3 separate regions of the Homo sapiens genome follow, and all the other regions are linked to region 3. The links come from fine-mapping of genetic effects on gene expression. A gene starts in region 3. Each other region holds a variant in brackets. All regions are shown on one strand. Distances are from middle to middle.

Region 1 (10,474 bases), 160 kb before region 3:
TGGTTTTTGTAATTTTGTAGAGATGTGGTTTTGCCATGTTGCCCACGCTTGTCTTGAACTCCTGAACTGAAGAGATCCACCTGCCTCGGCCTCCCAAAGTGCTGGGATTGCATGGGTAAGCCACTGCACCTGGCCTGTTCAGACATATTTTTTTTTAACAGTGTACATAATTATCCTATCATTGGAAGGATTTAGGTTAAATAAGATAATCCCAATTGTTACTCAATTTCTCTGAACCTTAATATTATCATCCTATCTTTAGGAGAATTTAGTTTAAATTAGTGAATCTCAGAAGTTACCTGACTTCTCTGATCTTCAGTTTCCTCATTTGTAAAACAGGGAAAACAAAACTTGCCTTATACTATTGTCGTGACTAGATATAAATATAGACATGAATCTAGATATAGGGATGTATAGCCTGGAACACAGTAAGTATTCTGTAAACATTATTTTCCTCTCTCTACCCCAAATCTCTTAAAGGACAGGGATTGAAAAACTATTTTTTTTTTAAATAGTGTTTCAACTCTCCAAGGCCCCTAGCACATTATCTGTTGAATGAGAAAAAAGAATCATATGCTCCCAATTCCTTCCCTGGAGAGGTTACATTATCGAGTTCTCTACAAAGTTGAATATTCCACTCATGACAAAATCTTATAGCTGTTTTTAATGTCATACATTGTTGAATTTCAGAGAGCTAAGAATTTGTGGTATATAAGAACAACAACAGAAAAAAGTGTAAGGGGAATATAGAAAAGGAACCAAAAAAAAAAAAAAAAAAGTTAAGATTAGGCCTACAGAGCTTCTTTGGTTTGTTTGTTTTTTGAGATGGAGTCTCACTTTGTTACCCAGGCTAGAGTGCAGTAGCATGATTGTGATCTTGACTCACTGCAACCTCCGCCCCCTGGGTTCAAGTGATTCTCCTGCCTCAGCCTCAAGTAGCTGGGATTACAGACTTCTGCCACTGCAGCCCGGCTAATTTTTGTATTTTTAGTAGAGACGGGGTTTCACCATCTTGGCCAGGCAGGTCTTGAACTCCTGACCTTGTGATCCACCCACCTCGGCCTCCCAAAATGCTGGGATTACTGGAGTGAGCCACCACACCCGGCCGAGACTGGGCCTACAGAGCTTTAAACGCCTTGCATAAAGACATGACTTTTTAAGTTTGCAAAAGAAACTCAAAGCAGTTAAAACAATGGGACTTTCTAGAAATAGAAAGTCTTTGTTTACCCACAGTTCAAATAAAGTGCAAGTAAAAGGAAAGCTTTCTGTTTGGCCCTGCCATGCTCAGCAGCAGTCTTCTGACCCACACACAGCTCATGCAGCCTCCCTCTTGCTCTGCTGGGAAGTGACTCACATTCCATAAACTGGAACATTAATACCCTAGCTCTTGGCTGATGCTGTAATATCTGTATGTTCCCTAAAGAAGACAGGGTGTGGTAACATTAGCATGCACCCCCAAAAAAGAGAGGAGAAGAACCTCCTAGAAAGTTGTTGAGGAAGAGGGTATATGGAGAAAGTAGACCAGGTGAAATAGTATTTCCTGATGCCCCTTGCACTCACCTAGTCAAAGAGAAATGAAGCAAGTCAGGCTGGTACAAACTCTAGCAGTTGGCAGCACATGGCACAGAAGTAGGAAGAGCCACAGCCTTCTCTTATATATTATTCTGAAAAGGGCTGATGGACCCCTGGCCAGACATTAAACGATCTGCAAATTCATTACTTTATTCCACAAGTATTTTTTGAGTGTCTTTTAGTGTCAGGCTCCATGCTAGGTACTAGGGATTCAGTGACAAAGAAGATAAACAAAGCACTAGCCCCACGAGATGGTCCTGAAAAAGGGATCTAAGATAAAATATGGGGGAAATACAAAATACTACACCCCACAGATGAAATTCCCAAAGCATATTCATTCATTTTTTTAGGAGCACTGCACCAAAGAAACCCATTTCACTCTATTTAACCCCGTGTATACCTAAGATGTTTATCCATAAAAACTTTTTCTTATGTGTCATCTGTTAAAATCAGCTGATATATCTTAGGACATACTTTAAGGAACAGTACTCTTAATTTAACAAAAAACAAAATAGGGAAAACAATTAAAAATTTCATTTTCTGCATGTTCATAAAAAGCCACTTTTGAGTTGTTTATGTATTAATAATTGTCTCACTTTCTGATAAATCCTCAATGATTTGGGATGGATTGGAAGATGCTTCTACTTGGCATCTATTACAATATTGTGCACAGAGTGGTGTTTAAGATCTCTTAGGATGTGAGAGCAATCTGGTGGCAACACCTGCCTCCTTGGTGATTAATGCCATTAGTATAGCTGGCGAGGCAGGGGCCACATCCTCTCCCACCGTGCTGCACATTCCTCTGGGTGCCCTTTCCTACAAAGGCACACTGTTTTACGATTGAGTGCATCTGCCCTAATCTATTCTGGCTTTGTTGACTGAACCATGATGCCAGTCTTCAGGACATATTTCTAGCTTATTAATCAACAATTCTAAATGATCTGCTTCAGATACCAGATAACCCATTTCTCCATTCAATGAACAAAATTTCCATGGGAATCATAAATTCTGTCATTTCACAGATATGGGTTGCAAATGTCTTTTCTCAAGAAAATTCTTCCCAAGGACTGTACCTAAAAGTATTCTTTAAAAAATATCTATCTATATGTATATCACACAACTTTCTATATAGAATATTTTATATTCATTTTAAAATCTTGTCATATGTGGATGTTCTGCGTGATTCACAGCTGTGTCAGAGAAAGGTGATGAGGATAATATTTTGAAAGACAGAATTTCCTATTCTGATATCTGAGTTTATCTTATTTTTAGATCCGTTGATGAGTTCATGTTTTTAAAGACTCTTCCCTCTATGCCTATGGAGCTGACACTTTATTTTATTTTATTTTTAAAAATGAGAGAGTCATTTTAAAATACAATTGACTATGTATAAAAATAGTCTGCCAATCTTGAGGAGGTTTAAATGGTATGTTTTACATCTTCGTGACGGTTTTATTACTCTTAAAATATATCCAACAAAATAAGAAGTTGAGCATCTGAGGCTTTCAATTTTCTCCCTGGTTTATCTGTAATTGCACAATAGAAGATATATACTGGACAGGCCAAACAAGATGCCCTCCTCATTCCCATCTGGAGAACTTCATCCTTCCATTTGCCTAGGCCAGAAAACTTGGAGCCATCCTCTACTTCATCTTTATATGTAATCAGTTAAAAAGTTCTGTTGTCAAAATACCCTATTTCATTGATTCCAAGAGGGACAACTTTTCATGCTTTAACATATATGAAATCAGAATACATCTCACAATCAGTAGTATCTTATATTCCCTCTCACTCAGGCGATAATCCTGACATAGATACCGTTGCCTACACAGGTGCTAACATCAAAACAGCCAGTATCAAACTCACAAAATGAGTGTCAGCCGCTTGGGAGAAAATTATAAGACAATATTGGAACACATTCAACCTCTAGGAACCAAATGGCTGTGGAGGTTGTAGGGAGATGAGGAATCAGAATTACAGGTGCTTAACTGCATTGTCGTAGAAGGAGTCAAAAGTTGGCTAGCTCTATGTAATTGCAGAGCTGAATTGAAAGCCCAGCACCAAGACTTCTGCTTCTGACAAAGATGAACTAACAGGAACCAGATTTAATATTCTGTCTAAAACAATCAAAAAGTCAGATGAAACCATGGTTTTTAAGATATTGGACATCAGGCAAAAAAGGGCAGCAATTCTGTATACTCAGGAAACACATCAGATAAGGCCCAACATTGCCCCAGCTTACTGCCTTGATAGAGTTCCTAGGCTACAGCTTTGGAAGTATGAAGACCTGTAGAGCTCAGTAGATTCCCTGAATTGAGTAGACAAAGCCAAGAGTCCAAGGAGACAAAAACAGTTAGAATTTCTGGGACAAAGTAACAGAAAGGAGAGAGCTATACAGAAGGACAACTCTGGACACCCAAGAGGGTTTCCTTAAAGTAGCCAGCAGCATACTAATCAATACATAAGTGTGAGGAAATTACCCGGCCTGGGGAAAGAACTACACAAAAGAATTATAGAGAAGAGTACACGGTGCTCATACAGGGCTGAGAATAGTATCTTATCCCATCAGCCAAAGTGACAAACTTTGTAAGTCATGGAACATTAAGTAGTCTACTCAGAAAGGTCCCGCCTCAGTAAAAGGGTACAATTAGCTCTAGACCAAACATGGCTTTGGTCCTGTCTACCACATTTTAAGACCCCAAAGGTTCAAACTGATTTCAGTAACTTAACTGCTCCCAGAACACAGCTCAAGGATATTTATAGAAATACAAAAATATCTAGTACCCAAGAAAGTAAAATTTGTAATGTCTGGCATCAAGTCAAAAAATAATGAGGCACGCAAAGAAACAAACAAACAAAAAAAACAGCACATATTAAAGTGAAAAATCAATCAATCCAAACACAGAATGGATATTAAAATAGTTACTATAATGGTGTTCCATAAGTTCATAAGGTTACATACTGAAAAATAAATCTCCAGATCCAGAAAATTTCACTGGGGCATGGTAGCAGCCATTTAAAGAATAAATATATTCAATTCCATACAATCTCTTCCAGAAAAAAAGAAGACAAGCAATTACTTCTCTACTCATCGTTTGAGGCCATTTTGTGCTAATACTAACACCAAACAAAGACAATACAAAAAAGAATACGACAGACCAGTATCTCTCATGAACACAGATAAAAAGCCTCAACAAAATACTGCCGAATCAAACTAGAAATCTATATAAAGAATAATACACCATGACCAAGTACACTTTATCCCAGAAATGCAGAGTTGGTTATTTAAAAACCAATTAATGTAATTCATCACAATAACAATCTAAAGAAGAAAAACCACAGGACTTTGTCAGTTGAGGTAAAAGAGAATTTAATAAAATTCATCATCCCTTCATGTTATTAACTCTCAGCAAACCAGGAAAGGAAGGGAACTTCCTCAATCTGATAAAGGGCATTTATAAAAACCTACAGCTAACATCATACTCAATGGTGAGAAACTGAATGCTTTCCTCTTAAGATTAGGAATAAGATAAGGACCTCCATTGTCATCATTCCTATT[C/T]ACTATTGTATTGCATGCGTAGCCAGTACAATAAGACTACAAAAAAAAAAGTGGCTTACAAATTGAAAAGAGGCAAAACCACTCTTACTTGTAAACAACATGATTGTTTATTGAGAAAATCCCAGTCATCTACCAAAAAACTCAGAGGTATTGAGTGAGTGTATCAAGTTTACATAATACACGGCTAACACACAAAAATCAATCATGTTTCTGTGAACTAGGAATATATAATTGGACATGGAAATAAAGAATACAATGCCAAGCCAAGCGCAGTAACTCCTGTAGTCCCAGCTACTTGGGAGGCTGAGGCAGGTAGATCACTTGAGCTAAGGAATGTGGGTCTGTAGTGTGCTATGATTACATCTGTGAATAGCCACTGCACTTCAGTCTGGGCAACATAGTGAAACCTCATCTCTAATTTTAAAAAAGAGAATATAATGCCATTTGCAATAGTTACAAAAAATACAACAGATGTAAATCATATAAAGTATATGCGATCTTCATGCTGAAAGCTAATAAAGGCTAATCAAAGAGATAAAATAAGACCTAAGTAAACAGAGACATAAAATTCTCATACCTTATAGATTGAGTGACTTAACATGCTAAAGATGTCAATTCCTACCCCCTCCAAATCAATCTGTAGAATTAACACAAAAAAATCCCAGCAAGACTTTTTGTAGATATGGACAAGCAGATAGTAAAATTTATATGGAAAGACAAAGACCCAGAATAGAATAGCCAAAATGAATTTGAAAACAAGAACAAAGTTGGAGAAATCACACTACCACATTTTAAGATTTACCTTAAAGCCACGGTAATAAAAAAAATGGAGTATTGATGAAGGGACAGACACATAGCAGAATAGAGTCCAGAAACAGACCCTCAGAGAAACGGCAATAGATTTTTGACAAGGTTTAAAGACAATTCAAAAGAGAAAAGGCTGTCTTTTTCAACAAATGGTACTGGAAGAATTGGGCGTCTATACGAAAAAAAATTCAAGCTACCTATCAAACTTACACCTTATACAAAAAATAACTGAAAATAGGTCACTGATCTAAAGGTGAAATGTATTTCTGCAAGAAAACACGGAGAAAATCTTTGTGTCCTGGTCTTAGGCAAGAAGTTCTTAGACATGACATTAAAAGCATGAGCCGTAAAAGAAAAAAAATGATAGCGTGGTCTTCATCCAAATGAAAAGCTTTTGCTCTGTGAAAGATAACATTAAGCAATTTTGAATAAAAAAGCTATGATGGAGAAAATATTTCCAATTCAAATATCCCACAAAGGACTTGTACCTAGTATATATAAAGAACTCCCAAAACTCAACAAGAGAAAGTCAAGCAACACATTTTTTAAAAATGAGCAACAGACTTGAACTGACACTATGCAAAAGATGAACAAAGCACACTGTGGTAAGTAGACTAATGTATCCCTCTCCCCTGCCAAATATGTCCTTAAATCTGTGAATGTGTAATATTATGTGGCAAGGGGGAATTAAGGTTGCTAATGGAATTAAGATTGCTAATCAGGTCACCTTAAAATTAAGTGATTATCCTGGATGATCTGAGTGGACTCAATGTAATCACAAACATTCTTTAATATGGAAGAGGCAGGCAGAAGAGGAAGCTTGAGTCAGAGAGAGATCTGAAGATGCTAAGCTACTGACTTTGAAGATGCCAAAGAATGTGCATAGGCTCCAGGAGCAGGAAAATCAAAATTGAAGAAAGAGAAATACTCCCTCAATGCTTCCAGAGCTGTGTTCTGCAAACACCTTGTTTTTAGCCCAGTGAAACCTATTTCAGTTTTCTGACGCCCCCAGAACCATAAAATAATAAATTTGTGTTGCTTTAAATCACTTAGTCTGTGGTAATTAGTTACAGCAGCAATTGCAAGATAATACAACATGAAAAGATGTTAACATTATTAGCCATTAGGAAAATGCAAATAAAAACAAGTATGAAATACCACTACTCACTGATAAGAATGGCTAAAATTTAAAATGGTGGCCAGGTGCCGTGGCTCACACCTGTAATCCCAACACTTTGGGAGGTTGAGGTGGGCAGATCACTTGAGGCCAGGAATTTGAGACCAGCCTGGCCAACATGGCAAAACCCCATCTCTACTAAAAATACAAAAATTACTCAGGCATGATGGTGTGCACCTGTAATCCCAGCTACTTGGGGAGGCTGAAGTGGGAGGATCACCTGAGTCCAGGAGGTCAAGGCTGCAATGAGCTGAGCTGTGATAGTGCCACTGCACTGAAGCCTCAGTGACAGAGTGAGACCCTGTTTCAATAAAAGAAAAAAAGAAGAAAGAAAGAAAAAGAAAAGAAAAGAAAGAAAGAAAGGAAAGAAAGAAAGAAAAAGAAAAAAAGAAAAGAAAGAAAGGAAGGAAGGAAGGAAGGAAGGAAGAAAGACAGAAAGAAAGAAAGAAAGAAAGAAAGAAAAAGAAAGTAAGAAAGAAAGAAAGAAAGAAAGAAAATAAATACAGGTGCAGTATATCTATGATTGGATCACTTCTCATCATTTCCACAGCTACTGGTACAGTCCAAGCCATTGTCATCTGTGGCCTGGCTTAGTGTAATATCTTTCCAACTACAGTCTATTCTCAGTATAGCAGAAATCTGATCAAGTTATTCCTCTGTTCAAAATCCTCCAACAACTTCCCATTTCATTCAGACTTACAAAAAACCCCACAATATCTGTGCCATTCTTCCCCCAGCCTCATATCATTTTCTCTAGCCTTTTTGAAACTCACCTCATTTTAGTCACACTGGCTTCTTTGTTCTTCATGAAATATATCCCGAATGCAAATACCACAGGACGTCTGCACTTGCTTTTCTCTTTTCCTAGAATTTTCTTCTCCCTGACTTCTGCATGGTGACCCCTTTTCACTTCCCTTAGATCCTTGTTTAAATGCCATGTTATCAGTGAGTCCTTTCTTTATTAATTTACTGAAAATTGCAGCTCCCCTGCATCACCTGTGGCTGGCAGCCTATACCCATTTCCTGTTCTCCTGCTCTGGTTTGTTTTTTCCATGGCTCCTAGGAAGATAAATGGATTTTGTCTGTTTTGTTCTGTGCTGTTTCCAGCACCTAGAACAGTTCCTCAGCATATAGCAGGTGCCCATTAAATATGTGCTGTTGAATGAATATATCCTTGAGTGGCTTGTGAGGATAGCCCAAAGCAGCCAGGGGCAGGTGGAAATTTCTTTAGTGTTTTGTGCTTTCTTTAAAAAATCCATATGTATTTTGTACTTTATAACATAGAGGCCTGTGTTTTATTATAAGCGTACTTTACCTCAAAATCTTTGAGCTAGAATGATAGTCCAAGAATATGTTTACCCATAGCCATTATACGTCAGCATAAGCCACAGTCTGAGAAGCACATTTTTAAGTATTAAAAGCTTAATTTTATCTTGATATAAGTGAGTTAAGTGACCTCACCATGCAAGAAAGGTAGAGAGAGAGCTTTAGGATCTCCAGGTGATTTCAAAACATACAGATACAGACGAGAGTTCTGCAAAGCTGGAAATATCAAATTGATAGCAAATAGGCTGGCTCTAGCCCTAAGAATATTCTGAGTATACTTGGAAAATATAGAACATAGTATAAGTCAATAAATCTTGTGAGAAATGAACTTTTAAATTTTAAGAATCAAAAGCAAGGTAATGTCAGCTATATTTGACTATTTTTATTGGGTTGGGGGAGTTGAGAAGTAACTAGAAAAAATGAAAAGGCTGAGTGCTACCAGTGGGTAGTCTTTTCCTTTAAGAAAGGAGAAAGAGTACTTTGATCTTGCTCTATTTCCATTGTCTGTATTTGTATTAGGCAATTGTAATGTCTTTTAATAAAAAGATGATTTTTTAAAAATCACCAGCAAATGGCAGCCATTTGATAAACTTCTCCTACTTCTCTTTATCCTTCTGGCACATTCTACCATGGTTTTTCTCCACTTTCCTGTTTTTGCTTTGTTCCTCTGAGGCTTGATAACATAAGGGAAAAAAAAAAAAAACTTGGATATAAGTTCAGAAAGAAAGTGAGTTCAATGTGGGGAATCTGAGTGCCAGAAGTTTGAAGAGAGCATGTGGCGAGCTGACAGTGCCTTTTGGCAGAAGACAGGGGAGAGATCTGGCAGGACTCCTCCAGGTGTGGAGAACTGCTCACCTGGCTTCTCCACTGGGCCCTGCAGAGCAGCCTCATGTTCCCTGCCAGTGGGTCGCCTCACAGTCTGTAAATATAAGATGGAAGATTCTTCCAGAGTAGAGAAACATAAGTGAGGCAGTTTGTTCAGCATCTGCTATAGATTGTGGTGAGGTGCATGCATATGGTGGGCTTTATTGATATCAATCATTTTGTCATGAGACATCATCAGTGCTAAGGTAAACGAATCAATTCCATTTTGTCAGTATGTATAATCATCAGGTTGTGTATTATATAATTTACCTACTGTCGGTCTTGAATAGGGCACTTTTCATTGAGGTATTTATTTGCAGACTTGGAGATGATATAGGGCTCTCAATTTGCTTCAGTTTCTTCCTTAGGAGCTTCTCCATCTTTGTTTTGTGATTCAGGCCCTAGAGGTCACCCATCCCTCCCTAACAGTAGGGTAAGAGGAATGTCTATCTGAGCACAGTAGTCTAGATCCTCTATGAGAACAAGAAGGTATGGGCATGAGAATAAAGAAGCACCTTTACCATTAAAAACATGCTCCCAGGACACTATACAGCCATCACTGCACACATGCATGACATTTCCTTTTGTACCTAACAGTAATTCCTAGATTCCTAGATAATGAACACTGATTCAGTTACATGCCAGAAATAATTAGAGGATTTTAATTCTTTTAGCATTCCATGAAGAGTTCTTAAGAGTGATCTTTTAAATGTAACTCTTTTCTAACATCCAACCATGATTTACAAGAGAATTATGCCTCTATCCATTTCTGGTTTCCATCTTCTAACTTTAGAAATTTTTCATCTTATGGAAGAAGCTACCAACCCACATGACCAAAGAAAAATCTCACCTGAATGTGTTATATCAATGTCTAAGTTACCTCATTCTTTATTCTATATGCCAGAATCTTTTAAATTTATTTTATTTTTTTTGCAGAATTACATTTTCCACTGTTTCCAAGGGAGTTAGAATGTACAGAGTTCCCTAAACTGGTATCTCCAATTTTTCATGTGTTTGTAAGTCCCCATTCTTTGTTTCTGCCTCCTCTTTTTACCTCGAGGCTAATCCTTTGGCAAGCTGCCTTTTCAGGACTTCTGAGAATATTCCTCCACTGCATACCAGAATAACTGCATCTGCCTTTCTTCCTTGACCTATAAGTCCATTTAAAG
Region 2 (10,474 bases), 250 kb before region 3:
ATAAAATTTAAGTCCTGAATTTTTAAAAATCACGTTTTCTTTTAAACTAGAAGTACTAGTTTGAAAATGAAAAGAAAGGAGAAGATAATGAATTTTTTTGAGTGCCTACTATGATCCTATTTCAGAGATGAGAAAATTGAGGATTCAAAAGGTGTATGGCCTCTTGAAGGTCAGATAGCTGAAAGTGACAGAGTAGGTCTAAATCAATGTGCTGGTTCTTTTATTTTGGTGTCTCAGGGATGTAAAAGATTTTTAGTGCATAATATTAAATGGCAAAATCAAATTTCCCAACAATATACAAAATAAAATCCCATTTACAAAGGGAAAAAGCTTTATCTATTTGTATATCTTCTTATATGTATATAAATTCATAGAAAACTATCTGGAAGTGTATGTAGCAAAGCATTAACAATGGTTATCTCTGGGTATAAGAAGGAACTAGAACTGAAGAAGATGGTGGTGATAAGGGAAGGTATACCTTTCTTTTTTTTTTATTCTGCTGTGCTTGAGTTTTAAAGAATGAGAATATTCATGTATTCCTTGTATAATTATAACACAGAAAACCTCCTTATTAGGAATAGGAGGCTGATTTCTTTTTTAATGACTGATCTTAGGTCCTTTTTGGGTATTTCTCCCTCGAGCTGGTTTCACCACTGAAGGACTGGGTGGATGATATGGCTTTTAGACACACAAATTACTCATTAACTTTGATGGAAAATTCTCACTGGCAGCTCACAAGCAAAAATGGTCCTAACTGCTTATGGTTAATCTTAGGCAAAGTTGTGAAGGGATTAACATCTGTCTTCCATATACTACTTTCCATCTTTCCCGACAATCAAATTCCTCCCTGGGTAATGCCTATAACTTACTTAACCTCCATCTGTCCCTCTCTTTTCTATTAAAGCTTGTCCTTGTATCCTTACTTGGGGGATACTTTGCCATACATACATGATAACATAAAAGGTTCAATCCTGGCCGGGCACGTTGGCTCACGCCTGTAATCCCAGCACTTTGGGAGGCCGAGGTGGGCAGATCACGAGGTCAGGAGATCGAGACCATCCTAGCTAACATGGTGAAACCCCGTCCCTACTAAAAATACAAAATATTAGCCAGGCGTGGTGGTGGGCGCCTGTAGTTCCAGCTACTTGGGAGGCTGAAGCAGGAGAATGGTGTAAACCCGGGAGGCGGAGCTTGCAGTGAGCTGAGATCTCACCACTGCACTACAGCCTGGGCAACAGAGCGAGACTCTGTCTCAAAAGAAAAAAAAAAGGTTCAATCCTGAGGCTATTTATGTTTTAAGTTGGCATTTAAATCCTTAAGCTTAAGGAAAGGATCAACAGCATCTGGAAGGTTGGAGAGAAGGGATAAGGAGGATGCAGAGGAGGGAAAGCACTGAGGTCTTCCCAGCTGTCATTGATAATATGGTCCAAACATTGCTACCTATAAATTTGGCCCTGGTCCTTCATACTCATTTATATAATAAACACTTAATAATCATCTACTATGTGTCAAACATTATACTAGGTGTCAGAAATATAGAAAGGAGGATTCAGACACAAAGCTGATAGCAAGAACTCTAAAATCTAGTACTCTTCTAACAGAAAATGACTATTTTTAAAAAGTGTTCTAAAAAATGTAGGCACTACATGCACACAAACACACAAATTGGAACAGTCAGAATACCTCCAGCTTGAGAAGACATCTTCCTATTGTGAATAACCAGGTATGAGGATGTATTTGCCTAAACCTGGTGAAAGTTAGACATGTGCTTCTGAAACAATCCCTGCCATCACACAGAGTCAAGAGAAGCCAAGTTTAATCTTAGAAAGCCTGGCTAAGCAGATTGGACTTGCCCTCTAGGGCCTTTGGTATTCTCCATGTGATCTGATAATTCTGACTACATACAAGAAAAAAAGTGGCTCCCTAACTGGTGTTCAGTGGGACTAACAACTGCCTGGGAAAGCTATTTATCTTAACCAGGGGGTGACCTCTCAGAGACAAAGGCCCAGTGACTAAGACTTGAAATGTCATTTTGTTATGTCCCACTGAAAATGCTATGGTATTTTTTTAAACACATGCATAGCAGCACAGACCAAGACCCCAAAGGACACGGTCTAGAAACTTGCATCCCATCAGAAGACACACAAAAATGTACAGGGAACGCTGAACCATGTGGAGTAAGAATTGTGAATTAAAGACCTAAATTGCTCCCAACAGAACAGAGGTTGTGGGTTGTGTGGGAAAACAACACACTATTATGCTCCTACCAAACACATTTTATTTTCTGTATACATTGAACACCAGGAGAAGGGAAGGAGAGATTTTTCTCTGACATCAGAGTGAGATATTCCACAGGAAAGGCACCTCTATACAATTATCATTTTTAGGGGGAAAATCTGTTTTGACTCTTGGATGAGATTAGGCCATTATACTTTGGTCCCCTTTATTGTTGCAATTAGCAACCTTCTACAAATGTTTAAATGTGTATGGTCGACCCAAGAAACTCCTGGCTGTGCCCAGTGAGAGGTCTTGCCTGTTGGCTTGACAGCTGGCTGGTGGGAAATCAGAGAATTGAGTTTATCTGGAGCAAATGCGACAACATTAAGCTCAACAACTGTTCTTGTCTGTGAGTCAACAAAAGGGTCACAGGATAACCTAACCTTTTGTAACTTAAACATAGTTAGTACTTTGAGAATGAGAAGTAACATCTCATGTCCTATTCGTTTTGGTGCTCAAAGAAGGGTTTAGGGACCACGAGTCCCAGCAGTTTTAAGCAAGTCCCAGGCACTGACTCCTCGGCACTGCCTCAGCATTTGGGTGTTGTTACAACACAGGAATGTGGTTAGAAAGACCCTTTTGCATGTTTTTCAAATAATGGCAAATAAGCAGAACAGAAATTACAGGAATGATTAGCACACAGCAGCAGGAGTAGCTGTTTAATGCTTCTGCCTACAAAATAAAGAATCATGGGACATGTGAGCAAGTCATGGGATCTCAGATCATCAGGTACAACCAGTTCACTTTGCAGATGTGGAAACATAAAGGGCAGACACCTCGCCCTAGGCCACAGAGCTAGTTGGTGACAGCAGGATGAGAAGCCAGGCCTCTTGGTTGCCTAACAAAGAACGTTGCAGGCGTTCCATGCTGAGTCGATACTGCTTCTTCCTAGATGACAGGACTGTAGTCAAATAGAAAAGTTGGTGCCCTTTGCCCACACATTTAGGCTCAACAACTAGAGAGCTGCGAAGTTAGGACAGAAATGTGGAACCAGGTGGGGCAGGGATAGAAAACGAGGTTACTCAGGATTTCATGTACAGGACCTGACTTTGACTCTATCTTGTTGACTGCTGTTCTCATGGGTTGGGTGCTTCTCCAAAGCAGTGGCTGACTGATTTTATGGTTGCCTTGGAGAATATAGCATGAGTTGCCCTCTTAACTTCTGTATTTGAAGAGGGGAATGCCCTGGTCCACCATTCAGATCATCATACAGAACAACTCTGGTGACTAGCAGGAGGAGTGTCACCATGGGATGTGCCTCCATGTGATTGGAGGAGGACTATGATCTGTACCCTCCAAGTCCCAAAGAAAGGAATCTAGCCAGCTGGGAAATAATACAAGCAGTGCATCATCGTGACCAGCAAACTATTGTTAATGCCTGACAGCAATACAGGTATTAACTACTTCTTACATGACACACTTTGCAGAAAGAGAAAAACTATCATTCAAAATCAGCATTCCCCCTTTTATCTAGGATCTGACCCTATTCAGCAACATTTCTTCATTCCATCAGCAGATTTGAAAGTCTGGATTTAGTTCTTAAACGTCTCCCTTCCAAACCCATAGATGAGATTTGCTCAAAAAGAAGTATCTAGAAGGCAAGTTTCTCAAGACACCATAAAATTGTAGGGACTGAAGCAGTGATTGGATTGATTAATTCAATCAAGGCTGTGACTCAATGTTGGCTAATAATGAGACCCAGGCAGGGCTGAACAATGAAATGCTCTAATTGATTTTACGCATGTGGAATGACACACACACCCCCAGAGCATGCTACGATGAATCTGCATGCTGTGTGCATATAGATTTCACAGTGGATCAATTATACCACCCAGTTGCTTCAGGCCCTTATATTCTGCAATTCACAGACCAGTTCATTACTATGGTGTGAGTGCTTAGGACACAGGCTAAAAGGTGGCAGAGCCCATGAAGTCTGTTGTCACCTCATGTTCCCTTTAGGGGAAAGCAACTGCGTGGCACACACACATACCAGCCATGCCACAGGCTCAAGTGAATGCACGGTATCTTCCAGATTCTGGCATGACCATTGACTGGGCTAGAATTCCAAAGCCCTGGTTTCAATTAAACTTAAGTGGATTTGACTAAAAGTTTGAACTGATGCTAATTGGTTTTCAAAACACTGAGTAACAAATAAGTGTTACAGTCTTGCCCACTGAAAGATGCGCCCAGTTCTGTACGTGCCCCTGGACAGCAGGGCAGGCCACACATCCCTTACCTTGCTGGGCAGGGATCCAAATTGCAGGACTTCAGGAGCTGTGGGGGCCGGCGGCTGGTCACGCACAGGTTCTCCTCAGCAGGCTCCCGAGTCTGTTTGTTCAAGCAGCTCACCACAGCCTCCTGGACACCTGTGTACAAATCACACGGTCAGGCCAGAGTGCAAAGTGGGTGTGTGTGTGGGGGGTGATGAAGTGTAGACAAGGCAGCTGGTGGGAGGTCCCTGTGTTCTGTAGGACTCTCGCTGTATGTCAGAGATGGCAGTTTAAAGCCCAGGACTGCCAATCTTGTCAAGCATCACTTGAGCTGGGAGAAAGTATTCATAAGCTTGTTGCCTCTGTGAGCATGCTCCTTGAGGAGGGCAACTCCCCCACAGAAGAGAGGCTGCTACCTAGACTCTTGAAATGCTTAAAAAAATGCCACGAGGCTAATGCCACCAATGCTGGAACATGATACTTCAATGAACAAGGAGCACAGGGTGGCAAAAAAGGGGCCCAAAACCTTCACATCTTATATTTTAATTGAAAGGAAATCGTTGTATTTGGAAGGGAGGCCCAAGGCCATGTTTTATATCCAGAATTCTGTAAACTGCTGGGCTCTTGAGGTCTTGAATCTAGGACTCCAGTCTTTGCTGTTTGCCTTCTGATTCTGGTTCATTTCTTTTGTGACCTAGGGCAGCCTTGGAAGTTGGAACAAAGAAGGAGAATAAGATGCATAATAACCACAGCCGTGGAAAACAACCTTCCCACTGACACCCGCAGGCCCTGACTCAGAGCTAGTGAAACAGGAGTTTGAGCAGTGACTGGCACAAGGTTACTGGGAAGTTCTCCAAGGTGGTTTGCAGGGCCCTTGGGGAGACACTTATTTTTATTTTATTTTAAAATTTTTTTTCAAGACAGAATCTTGCCCAGGCTGGAGTGTAGTGGCACGATCTCAGCTCACTGCAACCTCTGCCTTCCGGGTTCAAGCGATTCTCCTGCCTCAGCCTCCCGAGTAGCTGGGATTACAGGCGTGTGCCACCATGGCCGGCTAATTTTTGTATTCTTAGTAGAGATGGGGTTTCACCATGCTGGTCAGTCTGTCTCGAACTCCTGACCTCAAGTGATCTGCCCACCTCGGCTTCTAAAAGTGCTGGGATTACAGGCGTGAGCCATTGCACCTGGTCCCCTTGTGGAGACATTTAAATGAGCAATGTAATGACCAGACATTTCATTTTGATGCCCAGTCATAATAACAGTAGCTAACATATACAGGATGCCCATTATTAACCAGGTACCAACGCTAAGAGCTTGGCATGCATCATTCAGTCCTCTCAACAACTGCACAAAGTAAGCACTATTTTTATTCCCATTTAACAGATAAGAAAACAGGCTGGGAAGGGTGAAAAGACCTGCTTAAGTTCATACAGTTGTAAATGGTAAAGCTGAGGATGGCTGTGCCCTTAGTACTGACTGATAGACTTAATATTTAAAAATATTAAGAGGCTGTCATATCTACTTCCCTGGAGATCTTTAGGAATAACCTAGACATTTGTCTGGAATCATTTCAGCAGAGCTCAGT[T/G]TGAGTGAAGAGGCAAGACAGGACATTCTCACTAATTTGCCTTCAGACATACATAGCTGTGTATATAAAGATACTTACATTTAAAGATACCTATCTATAGCTGGACATTTATATATAGTTATAGTAGAGTCTGGGACTATCCATGTAATTAGCAATATACATAAATACACATATATTGCCTTGCTTTATTTTCTGCATTGCTTCATCAGATACTACCTAGTATAGTACAGTTGACCCACCATGCTGCTCTCCTCCCACGTATGCTGTGTTTCTCCAAGAAGTCATCAGCTCAATCATCAGCTAATACTTCCTAGGTTGATGTGACATTGATCTAGTCCACTTAGGAAGGCCATCATTTAAAAAGTGACTCAGCTGGAGTCCAAATCACCTTTCTTCTTTGTAAGTCTGAGAAATTAAACATTTTTTAAAAAAAAGAACCACAAAGCCAGGCACAGTGGCTCATGCCTGTAATCCCAACACTTTGGGAGGCCAGGGTGGACGGATGACCTGAAGTCAGGAGTTCGAGACCAGCCTGGCCAAAATGGTGAAATCCCGTCTCCACTAAAAGTACAAAATTAGCCAGCTATGGTGGTGCACACCTGTAATCCCAGCTACTTGGGAAACTGAGGTAGGAGAATTGCTGAAACATGGGAGGTGAAGGTTGCAGGGAGATGAAGGTTGCAGTGAGCTGAGATCACACCATTGTACTCCAGCCTGGGTGAGAAAAGCAAAACTCCGTCTCAAAAGTAAATTAATAAAAATAAAAATAAAAAAAGAATCACAATATTTACCCTGTGGCTGTGATGGTATCTTTACATTTTCTTTTTTCTAAATTGTTTATGAGCTTCAAAATTTAATTTAAATATATCATGGCCAGTTCAGGGTGGAGCATTTGAGATTTCTATTAGACATTCAAATTATTCCATCATATTCTGTAATGCTGACTGCAGGGTGTTCTCTTGGTTGTAGATGGGATGAGCCATTTGAAATTCATGGTATGACGACACAGCCAAACACTTCATAAGAAACAGTTGATATAATCACTGATACTTCCCACTGGAATAGTCTAGTATTATTAAGGTAGTGATGAGAAGTCACTGGATGTAGCTTTCTATCCCATACAGAATCTAGAGCTGTGGTTATCTTAGAAATTAAATTTTTAACTCATTTACCTGTTTGGTAGTATTCAAGAGATTCTAAATGAGACTCTAAAATAAAACATATTTTGCCTTTATTCAGCTGTTGAAAACCTTATGAAATTGGGTCAACGATCCTGAGGCAGGAAGTGACCGTGGGCTTGTCACATGCTTTACTTGAAAGTGACTGGATCAGGTGTGTGTGTGAAGGTGTGTAAGTGATGTGACCTGTGTTTCCACTTTGTGAACTCCTTCTTGATAGAACTTAGGCCCTTCTGGACAATGCCAAACCTCGCCCAGAGTCAGGTGTGTAAACCAGCTGGAGCGGCGGCGGCAGCGGCAGGACTGCTGTGGTGCCGAGAGTAGCAACCCGGAGGGAGTGACACTGGCTGCGGGAACCCGGTGACAGCGTGAGAGGTACTAGGTTTCGACAAGTTTGCATCATGCATGAGTATAAGCTAGTCATTCTTGGCCCAGGAGGCGTTGGAAAGTCTGCTTTGAATGTACAATTTGTTCAAGGAATTTTTGTTGAAAAATATGTCCTATGATAGAAGATTCTTATAGAAAGCAAGTTGAAGTAGATGCACAGCAGTGTATGCTTGCAATCTTGGATACTGCAGGAACGGAACAATGTATAGCAAGGAGGGATTTGTACATGAGAAATGGACAAGGCTTTGCATTAGTTTATTCCATCAAAGCACAGTCCACATTTAATGATTTGCAAGACTTGAGAGAACAGATTCTTTGAGTTAAAGACACTGATGATGTTCCAATGATTCTTGTTGGTAATAAGTATGACTTGGAAGATGAAAGAGCTGTAGGGAAGGAAGAAGGTCAAAAATCTAGCAAGACAATGGAACAACTGTGCATTCTTAGATTCTTCTACAAAATTCAAAATAAATGTTAATGAGATCTTTTATGACCTAGTGCGGCAGATTAACAGAAAAACTCCAGTGCCTGGGAAGGCTCGCAAAAAGTCATCATGTCAGCTGCTTTAATGTACTAAGTGCATTGCAGCTCTGAGTCAGCTCTGAAGAACTGTTGTCCAATTCAATAGTGCCAACACTCCAACTTTGTTAAACCTACCAGCATCTTAAATGGACTTTCCTGTGGTGGTACCCTTTAAGAGCATATGAAAGCTACTATATCAGTTTGCACATTCTAATCACTTTCAAGCTTCACAAGAGAGATTTTTACTTATATAATAGTCCTAGATTATGCAGCTGGTAAAAGCAGAGACTACATCCAGTATTACTGCTAAGAGACATTCTTCATCCACCCACGTTGTACATGTATGAAAATGGTGTACTGTATACTCTAACCCTCACTCATACTTTGTATTGGAGAGTACAATAATGTAAATCCTAAAAGCACCACTATTTTACCATAATAAAACAAAGTCCAAAGAGCTCCTATGTAGACTACTCTAGATGACTTTGCTTCTTTGATACTTGTAGCTTATTGTAATTTTTTTAAAGAAATTTAAGGTCACTATTATTGTAGAAAATAAGTGCTCTAATTAATACAGCTATATAGTTTTTAAAAATGTTTCAAAAACCTATGGAGACAGTGATCTTGTCTTTAAAATATGATAGTCCTTTCAGTATAATGTCTTCAACAGATTGCCTTTAATATCTGTTGGGAAGGAAATGGGCAGACTTTTCAAATTTCTTTATTTTTTATTTTTTTAAAATTTTTATTTTATTTTATTTTATTTATTATTATTATTATTATTATTATACTTTAAGTTTTAGGGTACATGTGCACAATGTGCAGGTTAGTTACATAGGTATACATGTGCCATGCTGGTGCGCTGTACCCACTAACTTGTCATCTGGCATTAGGTATATCTCCCAATGCTATCCCTCCCCCGTCCCCCCACCCCACCACAGTCCCCAGAGTGTGATGTTCCCTTCCTGTGTCCATGTGTTCTCATTGTTCAATTCCCACCTATGAGTGAGAATATGCGGTTTGGTTTTTTGTTCTTGCGATAGTTTACTGAGAATGATGATTTCCAATTTCATCCATGTCCCTACAAAGGACATGAACTCATCATTTTTTATGGCTGCATAGTATTCCATGGTGTATATGTGCCACATTTTCTTAATCCAGTCTATCATTGTTGGACATTTGGGTTGGTTCCAAGTCTTTGCTATTGTGAATAATGCCGCAATAAACATATGTGTGCATGTGTCTTTATAGCAGCATGATTTATAGTCCTTTGGGTATATACCCAGTAATGGGATGGCTGGATCAAATGGTATTTCTAGTTCTAGATCCCTGAGGAATCGCCACACTGACTTCCACAATGGTTGAACTAGTTTACAGTCCCACCAACAGTGTAAAAGTGTTTCTATTTCTCCACATCCTCTCCAGCACCTATTGTTTCCTGACATTTTAATGATTGCCATTCTAACTGGTGTGAGATGGTATCTCATTGTGGTTTTGATTTGCATTTCTCTGATGGCCAGTGATGGTGAGCATTTTTTCACGTGGTTTTTGGCTGCATAAATGTCTTCTTTTGAGAAGTCTGTGTTCATGTCCTTTGCCCACTTTCTGATGGGGTTGTTTGTTTTTTTCTTGTAAATTTGTTTGAGTTCATTGTAGATTCTGGATATTAGCCCTTTGTCAGATGAGTAGGTTGCGAAAATTTTCTCCCATTTTGTAGGTTGCCTGTTCACTCTGCTGGTAGTTTCTTTTGCTGTGCAGAAGCTCTTTAGTTTAATTAGATCCCATTTGTCAATTCTGGCTTTTGTTGCCATTGCTTTTGGTGTTTTAGACATGAAGTCCTTGCCCATGCCTATGTCCTGAATGGTAATGCCTAGGTTTTCCTCTAGGGTTTTTACGGTTTTAGGTCTAACGTTTAAGTCTTTAATCCATCTTGAATTGATTTTTGTATAAGGTGTAAGGAAGGGATCCAGTTTCAGCTTTCTACATATGGCTAGCCAGTTTTCCCAGCACCATTTATTAAATAGGGAATCCTTTCCCCATTGCTTGTTTTTCTCAGGTTTTTCAAAGATCAGATAGTTGTAGATATGCGGCGTTATTTCTGAGGGCTCTGTTCTGTTCCATTGATCTATATCTCAGTTTTGGTACCAGTACCATGCTGTTTTGGTTACTGTAGCCTTGTAGTATGGCTTGAAGTCAGGTAGTGTGATGCCTCCAGCTTTGTTCTTTTGGCTTAGGATTGACTGGGCAATGTGGGCTCTTTTTTGGTTCCATATGAACTTTAAAGTAGTTTTTTCCAATTCTGTGAAGAAAGTCAT
Region 3 (10,474 bases):
CACGCACTTGTCTCATTCTGGTGAAAACACAAAGTTTGAAGCCAGCTCTCTAAAAGAAGAAAGTTAGTAACAATGACAAGACTGTAAAACTTGATTTAGACACATTTTCCTGTGATTATCTCAATACAGTTAACCAGTAGGTTATTCATGGTGATTGAAGGAATGCTCTCACTCAAGAAAAGGCTCCGGTCCTTATGCTACGAAGAGGTCACTTCTGGGTCACTCTACTCATGAGACCACAGAAACAGTAGAATATGCTTACTGAGAGGAGGGCACAATTAAACTTACATAGCTGGACCTGAGAGCGTGTCATTCCTGGAAACTGGAAGATACATGAATTAAAAGCAGAGCTGTCACTTGACCAAAGAAACAGAACTACACATATGAATTTAAGAATCACTGAAAATATGAAGAATTAAAGAACCCTTCGATAGTCTCTGTAAGTCATTTTTTCTCTTCATTTAGTTCACAAACTGTATCTACACGGCACTCTACTAGGTGCTTCGGGAAAAGCAGAAATTCATAGGACCCAGTATTTTTCCTGGAAGAGTTTAAAATTATATTCTGAGTAAGCCATAATAAAGGGGAGAACCAAAACACCAGACCATGTCTCATGCTAATATAATCCCCAAGCAAAATACAGCCCAAGTAAACTAAGTTTTTAAAAAACATGAGTAACTTGTATAGAGTTAACGACACTTAACTGATAAAAATTGCAAACCCTAACTGTAATATTGTTAGTAGGATAGAATCAACTTAGGAGATGTGAATCTCCTAAGTTAGAGTAATAGCCTACTCCATGGTGTGTTAGAAGACTGCTTTCCAATTTATACATACATAATAGTAAATGGGCATCAACATGTATTAAAACATACAAATGCACAAATACATACATGCATTTATTTATTCATTCTCTTTGTCTCTCAAAAGACTTCAATTTCCATATGCTTTTTCAAGGAAAAACTTTCCTGGTGTAACAAGATTCTTCTGTAGTTCACTAGTGACCACTATTGGACACTCTTCCCTCAACTTATATGAAGCAACAGAAATGGTGTTATGTGAAAATAATAATGGGGGCCAGAAAGTGGTCCTGAACACACTGAAACACTAAAAACAGGAGCCTGAGTAAACAAAAATGTAGCTGGCCATGTCTAGACAAGAAACTTCACAAAAACATGAAGAAAGTGATTTTTAAATTTTAAATGCTTCATAGCGTTCTGTAGATCTATGCGAAAAGTCTTCAAGCTTGATTTAAAGACAATCTAGGTCTGAGAAAAAGAAATCTGTGTAGAGTGAACAATTATAGAAAAGTGCTTGTGCATGCACATGAACACACTGACATACATGCTGCTGGAACAGGCCGCGGTCTCCTGTAAATAAGGGACTTAACATTCATTCCACAAGCTAAGGGTGCTTCTCCCCATCCAAGATAGATCCACTTAGATAATAGTGGGAGAGAGTGCCAGAGGGACTGAAGGGAATGGGCTATTGTGTTTGACTAGTTGCCATGTATAAATTAGTACAGAGAAGAAAAAGAAATTCAACAGGAAAACACATGTACTTTATTATAATTCCTAGTGTTACTCTTGCAACTCTCACAATAGCAGGCAAAAGAGCTTAAAACCGTTTAAAAGAAACAAAAGGCAAATGCAAATTTGATTAAATGCCTTTCTGACAAGAAGTGATTTGACTTCAAGTGTAGATGGACACATATGTCAATGGCCGGTCATGGTTTTTGCCACATTCTTTTTGAGCTAAACAATTGGGACAAAGGAGAGAGAATAAATACGAGAAAGCAGAATGGGAGGATTGAGAAAATGGCATTATGTAGCTTAATTTCACCTGAATATCAAATGAAATCTCTTGATCAGTACTACTGTCCTACTGTGTCCAGAATATAAATTTATGATATAAGTTCTGTGCATGAAAATATGGGTGGTAACGTAAAATAGATTCAACACCCATCCTCTCAGAAATAAGTTCCAAGGGGAAAGGATTTTGACAGAATGAAGGCTGAACAACCTTCAATATTTGTACACACTCAAGAACCTAGTCATGATACAGATGATTCAGCTGTCAGTGAAATGAGGGATATTTTAATAAGGTAGAAACTGGGCTTGCCACAAAATAGACAGGATGTTTTCCAATTAAGTTACAGAGACCTTTAGAAATTGCCCCAAATAAGTCCAAGAATAGACAGAATCCTTGCAATGTGTAAATGAAAACAAAAACAAAAAAAAGACTATAGGAAAAACAAGCCCCTCAATTCAATTTCTCTATCAAGTTTGAAGGTTGAGCTGATGATGCCACACTTCTAGTTCTAAATCAAGTACACAACAGGCTAAAGGTCACAATCTCTTAAGCCAATAATTAAATTTAATGCTAAAGGGGGCAGTTAATGAGCAAGTTTAACAAGTGCTCATGATATTGTACATATCTTTAATGATCAAGATGATGCAGAAAGCCTAAATATCTGCAACAAAGGGTACAGACCAACCTGCACCACTGTTTTCATTGTTCTTAAATATTTACAACCACCATACGAAGCAAACATGTTCTATTCTCTCCATTATTTGACCTTTGGGTTCAAATGCAAGCTTATTTCATTGCCTGAAAAAACGGGTTTAAAATGTCTTATCTGTATGATTATTGTAAGGATTTATTGTAATGATTTTCAAACAACTAGCCACATTCAGACACAAAATACATGACAGCTATTACTAATGCTGTTATTGCTTGGCAAAGGGATGTATGTAAACATCAGTCAGTTCTTCCTTTTGTAGCATAACTCTCAGATTTCCACTTAATTTAAATGCAGGCATAAAACAAACCTAGGTTTGTTTTAATTTTATCTTTATAATACAATTATTGTAATTTAAATATGATATGTTTTAAGTCCTTCTGAAATAAGCATACATACCTTTTCATTCCACATAAGTCAAATTATATGCTCTAATACATATATGAATATTCAAGATATCACAGAGGGATATAATGCGTTTACCAAATGGATAGCAAAACAATCTATTCCTGAATGGGAAAGTTTTACTAAAGTATAATGAGATCATACTTCCATATGAAAATATCAAAAAAGTAATGTATACTGGTAATTTGCTTTATGATGCAATATAATGGGAAAATAACACACACTTAAAAAAATCACAAAGAAGGAAAGATGAGACAAACTAATGGTGTATACAAGTAACACATCCCATATGGAAAAAATGAGACACCTTTCATAAATCGCTTGCTCCACAAGTCATAAAGCATACCTAAACATTCTGTTCTTTGTATTTTTCAGAACAGCTAAAACTTATAGTTCATTCATGCTTGAAATGTAGTTTACCTTTAAATTTCTATGAAAAATTAAAAATTTATTTCTATATTTATAGCACTTGCAATGCAGCATTATAATTTCTTAGCTACAATGATGCAAATCATTAAGAAGTGGGAATGTATAAAATATTGAATCACTGTCTGATTACTCTATTTGATGAATCTCCTGGACTTTTTCAGTTTGTACCAAATGGCTTTCTTCCCTACTTCAAAATTATAGCGCAGATCAGATTTGTCAGAATATAATCAGAACAAACATTCCTTCCCCATCAAGGAATCAATGCAACCTATTCATTTGCTACATTTTTACCTTGTTCTCTTCCTGCCTTGTTACCTTCTGAGGAAGTTCTGGCATGTTATAAATGTGACAGGAAAAACTACAATCACATTTGTTTGGATCAGTGTGTGCAAATTTTGGAATCAAACCTTCAGATGAGGTTTACTAAGCTGCCTGCCCAGAACACTCTGGTTTAAAAAATGTGCATTGCTATTAATATTTTGAGTGTAGATTTATTTTGGACAGTAAATGTTCATTTTCTGCCCATAAAACCAAGTATGAGTCACAACGGAACATTTACTTCGAGTCAAAAATGCAATGTGTACTGACGTTCAAGAGCAGAGCATCTTATCACTATGACTGTGGCAATCAGCCGTACTAAAAGTCACCATTCCTTTTTCTTCTTTAAAAGTAAATTTGAGATCAAAGGCCATAATCCTCAATTCATAAATCCTAGCATTAACTTCTATCCATAAATGACTTGCAGTAATTAAGAGCCATAATCTGGGTTGGCTGCAAAGAGGCTCTCATTCCCCTCTTTACCTGGTTCCATAGTACATGTGCATAGATGGAAAGTAATTCATTAAAGGCGGTACGGGCAAGCTCTGCAAAGCCTATCCATCAAAAAATTCCAGGAACACCACAGTGAGTGAGTTTAATTTCAGGATGTCTGTTATCCAAATTCCAAGCATACACACCACCATATATACAGTCCTCAGCTCCCAAACTCCATGCAGTATGTCCCAAAGTTCATGTCTCAGTATCAGTATTACTGTATAGCAGTAACTAATTCCAGAAAGTCTTGCAGACTTTATCTTGCTTGGGAAGTTGAGGTTAAAAGTTCTAGAAGGAGTATTCTCTCTTTGTAATCGTGTAAATTATTTTACCTGGAGTTTTAAGATAAAGACACACACACACACACAAACACACATACACACACACACCCCCAACAGCACCCAGACTCAATGGCAATAGCAATGCATTGAAATGAAAAGGCATTTACCAGGAGCAGGAAAGCCAGAAAGAGGAGCAGTGTGCCAGGAGTTGCCCGACGGCAGCATTCCATGCTTGGATCCTTGCCGGAATCAGAATCGGACACTGAATAAGCTGCTAAGTGCTCCTCTGCCTGCTGTCACATCCAGTACTGGTGCTAACACTCCAGTCCTGCCTATCAGCTTCCATCAGCCCCTCTCACATTTCCTGACCGAGGGGTGGGTGGGTGGATGGGTGGGGGGTAAGCTGAATGGAATCTCTCTCGGAGCAGGCAGCCAGCCAATCAGGCTCCTGCTAATCAGACATGCTGAATAACAAAGCCAGGAGGACAGAGAAAGTGTAACGGTGCGAGCAAAAAAGGGGGAAAAGGACGAAAAAGAAAGGCGAGCGAGCAGCAGAGCGAGAAGGGAAATGCAAAAGATGCAGAATTGCAAAAGATGAAGCCAAGCACTGTGCTTCCCATGGACCTGGTTAGTTCTTTGTGAGATGCATTTCTATTTGCCATTTGCCTGTGCTGATGTCTGTTGCTTTGTAAAGTACAGTAGCTCCCTGTGACTGTGTATTGTTCCATTCAGGAGAGAAACTTAATCCCTGTCAATATATAACATATGCCATAAAGGGAAAGAACCATAGACAAAAACCGACTTAATGTGCCCTGTAAATGTGTTCTGTACAACTGTTTTATTTCGCCTCCATAAAGTTCCTCTTTACTTTCTCTCTTGACTTGCAAAATAAATACTCTATACATTTTCTGAAGGTTCCTCACTAAGCCTAAACAGTGGCATAAGTTATTTTGTGTTATTAAGGACTTAATTTGGGGGGAAAAAAACAAAGCAAGTTGCTTCTCTGTAAAGTGACAATTGAAGGCATTTAAGATTTGCTAATTGTAAAGGCACAATTAGAAACTTAGATCCCCCAGTTTAAAAAGAAACCCTCAACAAAGACTCCAGGATGAGTGGGGCTGAAATTTGGGGTTGAGGAGCAGCCTGGTTTTGATGCACTGCCAACTCTCAACTATCTATTTTAGCCACGGGAGAGAAAGAAAGGATGAATTAAATCCTCAGTTAATCCCCAAACCTTCTTTTAACCAAGTTTCAGCTTCCTCCGCACCTCACCCACGTCCTTTATCAGAGCTGTTATAATGCAGAAAAGGCTGAACTGAGTTTTACCTCATTTTTCCATCCACTATTGCAAGAGGGTTGGATGGGATGACCTTGGAGGCCAGTCCAGCCCTGAAGGAAGTGCTAATGAGCAGTGAAATGACGACAAGGCCAGCAACAGCAACGAGAAGGTCAGGAAGCTTCTGAAGCTGCTTAATCCACCAGCAAGGGAGATTTGACTCTACTAGAGGAAGGTTTTATTACAGTTTTAGAAAAGTGTCAAATGTCAAACAAGGATGTATTTCCCCTTATCTGCAAAGGAAATCATTGAGTTTTGAAAGAATAAAAGAGCAGCCCTGGCCTTACATTGCCATAGGTGTGTCATCAGGACGTTTTCCCTTTTCAGATCTCCTGATAGCCCAGAAATATATGCAGTGGAGGTACAAGACATTTAGAATTAATGTTCTTTCCTTTCATTATTAAAAAATACTGACAAGAGGTATGAAACACACGAATATGGAAAACCTGATCAAGCCATAATGGGCATGTGAATACAGGCAGGTCTGCCTATGTACATACCTGCTGCGTTGCTTTTCAAAAAGGTGAAGAAAAGCAGGTTGTTCAACTTTAGGTTACCTACTTCATATGGTATATCAATTAAAGAGAGAGAAACTTTAAAAATCCTATTTTCATGCTGTTAGGAAAGTCAAGGTCATACAAAGATTATCCTTTGTTCTCAATATTAAGTATGTGGACCTAGAAAAATGGACAGTACAAATCCATAACAAAGAGAGCCCATTCTTGAAATATGCTTTTCCCTTTTAGAAAGATTTGTTTTACAAATCTCTCAAAAACTAGCTAATGCTCATAAGCTAAAGCGTATTCACAAGTAGATGTAAAAATGCTTAACTTTGTCTTTCCACTATTGTTTTTGTCTGAAATCCTCATCACATTAAAGAAAGGTGATTGATTGAAATAAACTTTCATTCATAAAGCTATGTTACATGTGTCTCTCTGTTACACACCAGAGCTTTCTGCTAAAGGGTTTATTTTTTTCCCTCCTATCACAGTCATTAACTGAAGAGTTTCAGCTAGTTCTATTAATGGAACATTTTACCTAATACCACCTCCTCCCTCTTCACACATAAACCCTGCTCATTAAGCAGATCCAAAGGGAAGAATAGGTAATGGGAGAAAGAAAAGTAGCAACAAAGCTAATGATGAGATACTATTTGTAGAGGAACAGAAAAATAATCAGCATGGTCAGAAAATAACTGGGAACCACTTACATGCTAGTTTAGATTCTTTTCTGCTTTGCAAATAAATACTGCCTAGGTATTTTGAGTCAGAAATTTCTGCCTTGAAGTTTTAATGGGCATGCTAATGTACAGCAAGATGGTCATCTCAATGAAGTCACCGAATAATATACTATTTTAAAGTTAAGCCCTCAATCACCTGTTGAATGCCTGGAGGATGCCCACCACACTGTCTCATGCTTCTGATTCCTCACAGCATTTTCTTTCCTCTTGGGAATACCCAGAGAAACTAGGAAAAGCAATTGCACATCCAGAGCTACACAGTACAGGTGAAATTACAAATTTACTATAACTTCAGAAAAGGGAGAACAAAATCAAGTTGGGTTAAGGTGACTGGGAAAAGTTTTGGTCATGAACTAATTTTGATGATGGCCAAAATGTACATGCCATCTTTATGGTTTACAAAGTGATTTTACATTTATGATCTCATTTGACCTTTGTGACTACTTTTTGAAATTAAGTAATCACCCCATTTTATGTACGTGGAAACTGAGGCTCAGAGAAGTTAAGTGACTTGACTAAAGCTTTGCTGGCTAGAACTGGCCATTGAGCCACGGTTTACCGAATCTAAATCCACCCTCATCTCATATTCATATATATGCATTATATCTATATATGATGTATACACATACATATATTCAGATGTTGGCAGTGATGTTGTTGAAGGGGGATGTTTATAGGAAAAGGAAAGTAGGCTACCAGGGTTTACCATGGGTATATGTTACCTGACGATGGAAAGTATCTTATTTTAGCCTCCAGCTTCTATGTGTCTTGACTTTCTCATTTCTAAAACGTTTTCAGCACCTAGGAAAAGTAATGTAAAACTTTAGGTAATCTAGATCCATATTAATGGCAACCGGGGAAAGGCCACTTACGGCATCTGAGCAGGGCGTTGGCCAAATTCCTTTTTTCCTCTTCAGGTATCTAAATTAAAACCGTCTGCAAGTGTGTGAGCAGCAGCACTAGCAGAAGCCGTGGCAGCTGAATAATACTGGTTACTGGCTCCATGCACAACATATTAGGTGAAATGAAATCAGAAGCAAGAGAGAGAGAGTGTCAGGGCTGTCTGAAGCATCATTCCAAATGGTATGGATTTAACAATACTTAATTGAAAAGACACCAGCTTGGACAGAAGCAAGCTGTTAACATTCAGTGTGCTTTATGGGAGGAAAGAGTGAGCTAAACTTTCGGTATTTCTCTCCCTGGGGAGAATTCGTTACAAGTCTTGCTCTGGAGCCACCTGTCTCTTTCTTCAGGTTGAGCCTCTCTGCTTAGCCCGTCAGCTGCAGAAACCAGTGTATAGGGGACACAGGGTCTCCTGGAAAGAACTCAGGGCTGGGAGGATTTCAAGAGCTAGGCAGGGCCTAATCTCCCCTCTTTAAGGAAGTGGTTATGGCAGCATCTGAGCCTTGTTTTCCCCACAGGGATGCAGTGAAGTTCGATTTCCCTGGTTAATTCTGAAAAATAAAGTAAGGGCGACTAAGATAAAAGTATAGGAAGCAGACTGCTATTCTCAGGGGCAGAACTGAAATTTGAGCATTACTCCACAACTTGCCAACTCACCTAGTATCTATTTAACACCAAAGCCATTAGAGCATTCATTATAGTTTTCAAATCACCTTTCACACATGATCTAATGTGATATGAACAGAAACTCTAGGAGTTAGAGAGTGATTATTATCCCCAATTTGCAGATGAGGAAACCAGTCCTCCTACGTAGAAAATGGGTTCATCAAAGTTATTAGCAGGCAGGAAATTTGGGGCTCTATCAAAGGCTGTTTGACTTTCCCCAGGACTACCATCTGAGACGCTGACAGATGAAAATAGCTACATACACTGAGAGTCTCCCATGTGTAGGCACTTTTCTAAGTATTTTATATTTATTATTTCACGTAATCCTTACAACAACTCTATGGGGTAGGTACATTTATTAACTTCACATAGATGTTTTTAATGATGGGTTAGCAGTCCTTCATCCCAACCAGTGCCTGAAGTCCAGAAACAACATTTTCTAGACTCCCTTGCAGCTAGGGTACTGGATGGAATTGAGAACTAGCCACTCTGAAGTACTACAAAAATTCGGAAGGAGGAAGTGAGGCAGAAGCTACTACACTTTGCTCTGTCTGCTTGTAAAAATGGCTACAGAGCAATGAGGTTTTTCTTGTAACCATGCTAACCAGTTGCTATGTTTGCAGGTGTCAAGAGGCAGGCATGGGACATGCATTTATTAGCTGGATCAGGGAAGGTGGGCATGGCCCTTGCAGCTCTTGCTGTTTCATGCAGCTTTTCCATTCAGCAGCAGATGACTTCCTGGCTGTGGAAGAGGCAGCAACTCCCATGGTGATGTGTTTCTGTAAAGCAGCACTGGAATCTTCAGAGAGCTCAAGTTGGAGTCTTTTTCTTTGGTAACTCAAATGTTATGTGTTATTTAATATCCTATAACACATCACTTTCTGCTTAAATTAGCAAGAATAAATTCTGTTCTTTGCAACAGAATCCCAACTGATATACCCCCTTTAACAGAGAACACTGAGGCATAGAGAATTAAAGTACTTGCCCAAATCATATCTCCAAAGAGGGAAAGGGCCAAGATCTGAACCCAAGCAATCTGTGTTCATAACCACTAAGCTATACTGACTCTTTGTAAAGCAAAGGGCCATGAGAATTCAGAGAAGGGAGATGTCAATGCATATTTAAGGACTCAGTGAGGAGTTTGGTAGAGGAAAATGGAAACTGAAGAAGGCTTTGAGATATACACAGACTTTTAGGTAATGAAAAGAAACTAAGGAAAGGCTTTACAGCTGTGGAGAACAGAGTAAGCAGAGAGAAAGTAGAGAAAGGTAAGACTCCTGCTTTTACTCAATCTGATTCACTACTGCAGGTTGTGTAATGGGCAAAAAATATGATTTTAGATTCTTTGTCCCATGGTCTTCCTCTCTTTCCCTGCAAAGTGTCTAGCATAGCATGTTGCTTACGTGACAAACTCCACAATTGTAAAATTTGATCTGATTCGTCTCCAAATGGCAGAAGCCCCAAGGGCCTCGGCTTACGGTTCTCCCTACAAGACTTAATTCAGGGCTTCTCATACTGTAGGTGCTTGGTTAAAATCTGTGACCCCAGTCAGTAGAAGAAAGGAATTCTGGAGGCTGTTTGGTACCATGGGAAGAACTCAGTTTTTGGAGCCAGACAGTTTAAATCTTAGCTGTTGCATTTATTACTCGAAGGGATTTAAGGAAATAAATTGCTGAAACTTTCTGAGCTTAGGGTTTTTTTGTTTGTTTGCTGGCTTGTTCTGTTTTAGGCTTTTGGACAATGAGAGTTATGTTCACCACCGTCAGGCAGTTGTGGGCAGTAGAGTGAGAGGTTTGTAGAGTGTTTAGCTCAGAGCCTGATACAAGTAGGAGATAATAAATCAGTACCATTCTAGGTGGTGGGTATAGAAGTAGCCACTG

The links.
Region 1: its variant is fine-mapped to the expression of ADAMTSL1 in left ventricle (GTEx, PIP 0.96).
Region 2: its variant is fine-mapped to the expression of ADAMTSL1 in tibial nerve (GTEx, PIP 0.91).

Annotation. Positions count from the first base shown.
Region 1 is chr9:18,623,943-18,634,416 of GRCh38, reverse strand. All of the region lies in intron 5 of ADAMTSL1 (ADAMTS like 1), which reads right to left. Among named protein-coding and RNA genes, the nearest start is that of MIR3152, 56 kb to the right of the region's middle. The variant C/T (reference allele first, on the strand shown) is at 5,132.
Region 2 is chr9:18,715,705-18,726,178 of GRCh38, reverse strand. It overlaps ADAMTSL1 (ADAMTS like 1), which reads right to left. Exons shown (of 29, transcript NM_001040272.6): 15 at 4,514-4,643. It also overlaps the pseudogene RAP1BP1. Among named protein-coding and RNA genes, the nearest start is that of MIR3152, 150 kb to the right of the region's middle. The variant T/G (reference allele first, on the strand shown) is at 6,073.
Region 3 is chr9:18,468,438-18,478,911 of GRCh38, reverse strand. It overlaps ADAMTSL1 (ADAMTS like 1), which reads right to left and starts at 4,759. Exons shown (of 29, transcript NM_001040272.6): 1 at 4,617-4,759. The coding sequence starts at 4,679.